2 linked regions of the Homo sapiens genome follow. The protein of the gene in region 1 interacts with the protein of each later gene in a pairwise test. Each region holds a gene or a part of one and is shown in the gene's direction. Other genes may lie near its edges.

Region 1 (3,653 bases):
AGAGACAGGATCTCGCTCAGCTGCCTATGTTGGAATGTAGTGGCACAAACATAGCTCACTGCAGTCTTGAACTCCTGAGCTTAAGCGATACTCTTGCCTCAGCCACCCAAGTAGCTGGGACTGCAGGCAAGCACCACCATGCCTGGCTAATTTTTTTATTTTCATTTTTAGAGTCTACGTTGCCCTGGCTAGTCTTAAACTCCTGGCATCAAGTGATACTCGCACCTCAGCCTCCCGAGTTACTGGGATTACAAACATGAGCCACCAAGCCAGGCTTTTATCTTTAGATTAATATTAATTTAGCATGTTATAGTTGTAAAAACACAGAACTAAGAGTAAGGAGTTTTATACCCATTACTGCAACTAACAGCTTTGTGACCTTGGGCAAATATCTTCACTTCTCTGGCCCTTTATCTACATAAGGAAAATTGAGACCAGATAATTCTACATCTCTTGTTTCTAGAATTAAAGCATTTTAACATAATATTATACCTGTTTTGCTGTTTGTCTTTTGCTTGCCAGGGAGAAGTTACACACTGGTTGGCATGTTCATTATATGTTGCATGCCGCAAAAGCATTATTCCCACGGTTGGAAAGGGTATCATGGAAGGCAACTGTGTTTCACTTACCAGAATACTACGTTCAGCTAAATTAAGGTAAACCTCTTTGATGTTTTTAAATGTTATATAAGCTCTAAATTTTGGAATCAGTTTTCTCTTGTTTTGAGATCATTTGACTTCATTTAATTTTTATTTTATTTATTTATTTATTTATTTATTTTTGAGACGCAGTCTCACTGTGCCAGCCAGGCTGGAGTGCAGTGGCACAGTCTTGGCTTACTGCAATCTCTGCCTCCTGGGTTCAAGTGATTCTCATGCCTCAGCCTCCTGAGTATCTGGGATTACAGACACACACCACCAAGCCCGGCTAATTTTTTGTATTTTTTTTTTTTAGTAGAGATGGGGTTTCATCATGTTGGTCAGGCTGTTCTCGAACTCCTGACCTCAAATGATCTACCCACCTCAACCTCCCAAAGTGCTATGGGATTATAGACGTGAGCCACTGTGTGACTTCATTTAATTCTAAGTTATAACATAGATAATCCTTTCCCAATTTTCATATTCTTTCTCTGCCTTTCTCAAATTCTGCTAGAAACCTCTGTGTTGAATCTTTAGCTATACTTTTTAAAATTAATTTTTTAAAATTTGGAAATAATTTTAGGCTTACAGAGAAGTTACAAAAATAAGAAAAGGACAATACCCATATACCCTTGACTCAGAGTCACCTGTTATTGACATTTTATCCCATTTGCTTTCTCATTTGATTTTTCTTTCTTCAATATATAGATCTTTCTCTCTCTCTCTTTTTTTTTTTTTTTTGAGATGGAGTTTTGCTCTTGTTGCCCAGGCTAGAGTGCAGTGGTGCAATCTCAGCTCACCACAACCTCTGCCTCCTGGGTTCAAGCGATTCTCCTGCCTCAGCCTCCCGAGTAGCTGGGATTACAGGCATGTGCCACCACGCCTGGCTAATTTTGTATTTTTAGTAGAGACGGAGTTACTCCATGTTTGGTCAGGCTGGTCTCGAACTCCCGACCTCAGGTGATCCACCCGCCTCAGCCTCCCTAAATGCTGGGATTACAGGCGTGAGCCAGCACTCCCAGCCAGATCTTTCTCTTTTTATCCTCAACCATTTCAGTCTAAGTAGCATACATTTGTAGCCTTTTACCCCAAAATACTTCACTGTGTATTTCTTTAAATAACTACAGTACAGCTACCAACTTCAGCAAAATTAACACTGATAAAATAATTTTATTTAACCTGCTAACTCTGTTCTAGTTTTGTTAGTTGATTCAATAATGTTCTTTATGGCATTTTTTTTCCTGGAAGTACAATTTCTAATTAAGGATCAGGTATTGCATTTGCTTATCATGTCTATTTATTCTTCTGTAATTAGGAACATTTCCACAGCCTTTCTTTTTCTTTTATGACATTACCATTTTTGAAGAATATAATCCACAATCACTTTGTCCCTTTCTTTAATTAAAAAAAATTTTTTTAGAGGCCGAGTCTTGCTGTATTGCCCAGGCCTCGAGTGCAGTGGCACCTTTTTAGCTCACTGCAGCCTCAAACTCCTCAGCTCAAATGATCCTCCTGCTTCAGCCTCCCAAGTAGCTGAGACTACAATCATGTGCCACCATGCCTGACTGATATTTTTAAATCTTTTTATAGAGACAGGGTCTTACTATGTTGCTCAAGCTTGTCTCAAAGTCCTGACCTTAAGTGGTCCTCTTGCCTCAGCCTTTTTTTTTTTTGGGACAGAGTCTCACTCTGTTGCCCAGGTGGAGTGCAGTGGTGCAATCTGGACTCGTTGCAACCTCCGCCTCCCGGGTTCAAGCGATTCTCCTGCCTCAGCCTCCTGAGTAGCTGGGACTACAGGCATGTGCCACCACGCCCAGCTAATTTTTGTATTTTTCGTAGAGATGTGGATTCACCATATTAGCCAGGCTGGTCTCAAACTCCTGACCTTGTGATCCGCCTGCCTCAGCCTCCCAAAGTGCTGGGATTACAGGCGTGAGCCACTGTGCCCACCCTCATCCCCTCTTTTAATAGATGGTTCCCAATTTTGGATTTGTCTCCTATTAACTTTTGATTAGATGCAGGTTAGTCATTCCCTGATGGAAAACTGTATAAGTGATTTTGTCTCCTGAGGATATCACATCTGATGATGGCATGTGTTATCCATCTGCATCTCATTGGTGATGTTAATTTTTGTCATCTGGTCAAGATGTTGTCCTATTTCTCTACTGTATATTAATTTTTTTCACCTTGCAGCTACTCTATGGGTCTCAGATACATCTTTTACTTACTCTAGTATCAAGCATATAGAATTATTTGGCTGGATAGGAAACAAAACAAATTTAGCTATCCAGTTTGGATTCATGCTAATATTCTTTGTTTCTGGGACAAAACTATTTGTGGTCATTGTCTATTTGCTATTCCTGTGTTTCCAGAATAGAAGAGGAGCAAAGTTTAAAGCCCTATTCAGAAATGGCAAATAGGTTTTAGTTGATGCTAAATTTAAATTTTTTTTTATTTTTATTTTTTGAGACGGAGTTTTGCTCTTGTTGCCCCGGCTGGAGTGCAATGGCCTGATCTCAGCCTCCCCAGTAGCTGGGATTACAGGCGCCCGCCACCACGCCTGGCTAATTTTTTATATTTTTAATAGGGAGAGGGTTTCACCATGTTGGCCAGGATGGTTTCAAACTCCTGACCTCAGGTGATCCACCCGCCTCGGCCTCCCTAAGTGCTGGGACTATAGACGTAAGCCACCGTGTCCAGCCTAAAAAAAATGTTTTTAAACAACTTTGGTTCTAAAAATAAAATAAGATGATAAAAATTAAATGAAGATCAATGGGGTTAATTTTTTAATTGAGCAAGACATTATCATTGTTAGTATAAAACAATCTGATCTTTTTCTGTCAATGTTTGTCATTGTTCATATAATTTCAAAAATCTTTGTAATGACAGATTCTGGGGGAACTAAACAAAAAAGAATTATAACAAAACAAATGTAGAGCAGTACATGGCAGGAGAATCACTTGAACCTTGGAGGTGGAGGTTGCAGTGAGCTGAGATAGCGCCACTGCACTCCAG
Region 2 (3,653 bases), on another chromosome or scaffold:
CTGAGTGGCGGGGATCAGAACTCTCCTATCTGAACCTACTGAGGAGCAAAGCAGCAATTACATGGGATCCTGTGGCTCTCCCGTTGCAGAGGCCACAGGAAGATAGGATGGAACGTGACTGGTCTCCTAACCAAGGTGCACTGAGAAGCAATCAACGGGTCGGTCGTGGCCAGTCCTGGGGAGGTCTGAGTGGTGGTCTTTGGGATAACCTTTGGCCTTATGGATTTGGACTCGAAATTAGAAGAGCCTACCATTTCAGATGCAATCACTTTTGGACATGCTTTTGCAGACAGTCCTTAATGCTGAAAACACAGAGAATGGGTAATTCAAGAGGCCTTTCTTTTAAAATAGACTTTTGTGACCCACTAATTGTAAGGTATTGCAAGGTCACTTTGCGTGTGTCATAAAGTTGACTTCCTTATTGGTTGAAGGTCACAGAAGTAGTGGTTTGCTTTGATGGAAATAGCTACAGCTGTGTCCCTTCCTGCTTTTTACTTTTTCTTTTGCTTTTTCTCGGCACGTGGTATCTCCACCATTTCTTCTGCACAAAGATGTCTTCTGTTCATCCTGAACATTTTTAAAAAATGCAGAATTTTATGTGACTGCTTTTTTGCCTCACAATTATGCTGTGAATTTTACAAAAATTTATTTTCTTTTTTGATAATTTATTGTACCAAAGCTGTTTTTATAGCACATAGATGTCTGTAACCAATAATGTAGCAGTTCTGCACTTTGACACAAGGTGTAACTAGACCATTTTTAAATGTCAGTTGAAAATTATGGCTGTACTATTGCTTAAACAAAACTGGAACTGTTGTTGAATCCATAGCCAATACATTTACAGCAATCTGTGTACTGAACATAGTAGATTGACATCTAATTCAAGATTACAACATCTGTTACATTCTAAGTGTGTTCAGGCTTCTGAAGGTAAAGGGACACTGGATCCAGAAGCTATGGAACCAGCAGTTGATTCTTGTATTCCTGATTAACCTACTTGTAAACTTGAAAGCAAGACCTTGATTGCACCAACAGGTCCAGAGTATGAGTGCAAGCAAAGCAGAACTCTCATGCGTGACCTGAGCAGACAGGCTGGTATTTAACAGGTGCCTCGTGTTGAGATTACGCTGCCTTAATGTAACACAGTCTGGCAGTTGCTAAATTTGTGTTCCCATTTTAAATTGACCAATTTTGGGGTGTGACACTTTTGAGCGGTTGAATTGGGAGAATGAAGATAAGTAATTTACCTGTCCAGGATCAAAAGAAGCCTAGAAAAGAAGCAGTAATCTACCTCTGCCGATAACCTGTTTAAGATGACTCAGCAGAACACCGCGTTTCATTCTATTGGTCAATTCCATGTGGCTGACTAGGTCAATTTTTTTTCTGAACAAAAGCAGGTTTTTATATGTAAACAGTGAGAAAAGAAAGGCTAAACACTATGTAAATGTGAATGGAAACTTGGAAATACTCGTTTTTATAAACTACAAAAACTTTTTGTTGTTTATCAGGAAATCCATATTTATTTTGTAATTAACTGTCAAGCCTGTGGATGATTTTTTTGAACTTGGTAGTTCATAAAGGTTTACAGTGAATAAAAGGATATCATCTTGAGTATAGCAATATCAAAAGGAATTCAGTAGTTACTGCTGTTTAGGAATATAAGGTTAAGATATCATATGGGTCAGGTCATTTTTTTTTTCTGTGCTGGTTGCCACATCTTAGCAAGCACCAAAAAACTAAAGCAGTTTTTAAACCGATATTTACGTAAAGAAAATCATAAAATCCAATGCTTCTGCATACTGTGTTATGTTACAGTCCAGTTTTGTGTGCTTTACTACACAGTTTGGTTACAGGACTTCTGTGCATTGTAAACATAAACAGCATGGAAAAGGTTAAATACCTGTGTTCAGATTGTAAGATCTAGTCCGGACTTGCTGTGTATATTGTAACGTTAAATGAAAAAAGAACCCCCCTTTGTATTATAGTCATGCGGTCTTATGTATGATAAACAGTTGAATAATTTGTCCTCAGACTCTTTACTATGCTTTTTTAAAAATTAATTTAAGAAAAATGTAAACATAGTAAAAATCTTCCTATGCAATTAAACTGGTCCAGGTCTGGTAGGTATAGTATCAAAGTTGAGTTAAATGTGTAAAAAGGAAACTATTTGAGATACATTGACATAGGCATCAGCAATCTCTGAAAGTAAAAATTGGAGGTTTAACAGATCATTTTGATTTTTCACATTGATTTTTTTATTTGAATGTTTACATAATTTTGTGATTCAAAATGCTCATATTTTAGTTGGTAGCATTTCGACTGGATGTGAGGGTCTGATGGTTTTCTCTGATATGCTTTGACGTGCTTGGATGAAGGAAGGAATACGAATACTCATTCTTCCTTCCCTAACTCCTCGTACGGGGCCATATCAGAATTCTAGAATTCTTGCCACTGTGATTCAATTGCTAACCTAAAGTCTTCTCTTTTTACAAATTCACCTGCTTCAGTATATATTAAGGTGGCTTTCGAGAGGCAAGATGCTTATTTAAAAGTTAAGCGTGAATCTGTAAAATTAAGGTTGGTTGCGTAAAGTTGAAGTTAACCACATGTAAGAAAGGAAAACTTCCATTAGTTTTCTTCTTAGGGTGTGAGAATTTTACCTAGGCACATGGATATTGGGCTGAAAAAAAAAAACCGACATTTTTATTTAAAACTACATGTAAAAAATCATGAAAGATTCAGTAATTATGTTAGGCTCACAAGTGACCATTGAGTTTGCCCCTGTACTGCTTCCCAGCTTTTGTGGTGTTGAACTTTTCTGTTCTTCCAATAGGGAGATACATAATCAAAATACACACGAAGACGAGATAGCAGGCACTCAGTTCTAGGCCAGTTTCTCAGTTTCCTTTGGGCCTGCCTTTATTTTGATAGTCGCAGAATGCAGGTTCAGATGCGATCCGGTGCATTCTGGGTGGTATCCCCATAGACAGAATACAAGTTCAAGACTCATTTTTATGTCCATTTTTATAGTGGTAGACTGTATGTAATAGACCAGATGGTTCATTCCAAATACATGACTTGGTCTTACTGCTATATATGAAGGAAGTTTGAAAATGTAATGGGGACAAAAGCCGTGCGTGACTTCGGTATACCCAGACTTCATTCAGATTTCTTAAAAATCTGCTAGGGATGTCTGTTGACCAGACGTTGGAAAACCTTTGGTGTCAGGGAGAGTAGAGGAGAAGTTCTGATTTTCATAACCCTGGTTTCTTATCTAGGCCTGTTTCCTTGCGTGAAAACATACATCACCAAGTAATTTGTAGTACAAAGAACAAGAGAAGAAACCCTAAGAAGATAGCTTATTTGTTATCCTCCCTTTTAATGACTAACCTTAATCCAAATGAATCCACTGAGAACCAGCCTGTGGATGCCTACTGGGCTTTCACCCTGGACCAGGAATTTTTGACGTATGCCTGTGTTGAAGGCACTGGATGCTTGTTTTGTGGAAGACATGTTCATTGAGGTAAGTGGCTCATCGCTTGGTGTGTTTGGCTCTCTTTGGCATTATGCATAGCCAAGGTCCCAGATTTTGGCTGCTCTCAGTGGGTGTTCTTGCATCAGAACTTTAAAAAAAATAACACTACCTTAACACT

The links. The genes of interacting proteins can lie anywhere in the genome.
Region 2: the proteins of RBL1 (region 1) and DYRK1A interact in binary tests that used the Homo sapiens proteins (3 or more experiments, as listed by UniProt).

Annotation. Positions count from the first base shown.
Region 1 is NC_000020.11:37,085,992-37,089,644, reverse strand, and holds part of RBL1 (retinoblastoma-like protein 1), read left to right. Parts: intron 1-522; coding exon 523-656; intron 657-3,653. UniProt on the Homo sapiens protein: Key regulator of entry into cell division. Directly involved in heterochromatin formation by maintaining overall chromatin structure and, in particular, that of constitutive heterochromatin by stabilizing histone methylation.
Region 2 is NC_000021.9:37,513,149-37,516,801, forward strand, and holds part of DYRK1A (dual specificity tyrosine-phosphorylation-regulated kinase 1A), read left to right. Parts: 3' UTR 1-3,653. UniProt on the Homo sapiens protein: Dual-specificity kinase which possesses both serine/threonine and tyrosine kinase activities. Exhibits a substrate preference for proline at position P+1 and arginine at position P-3.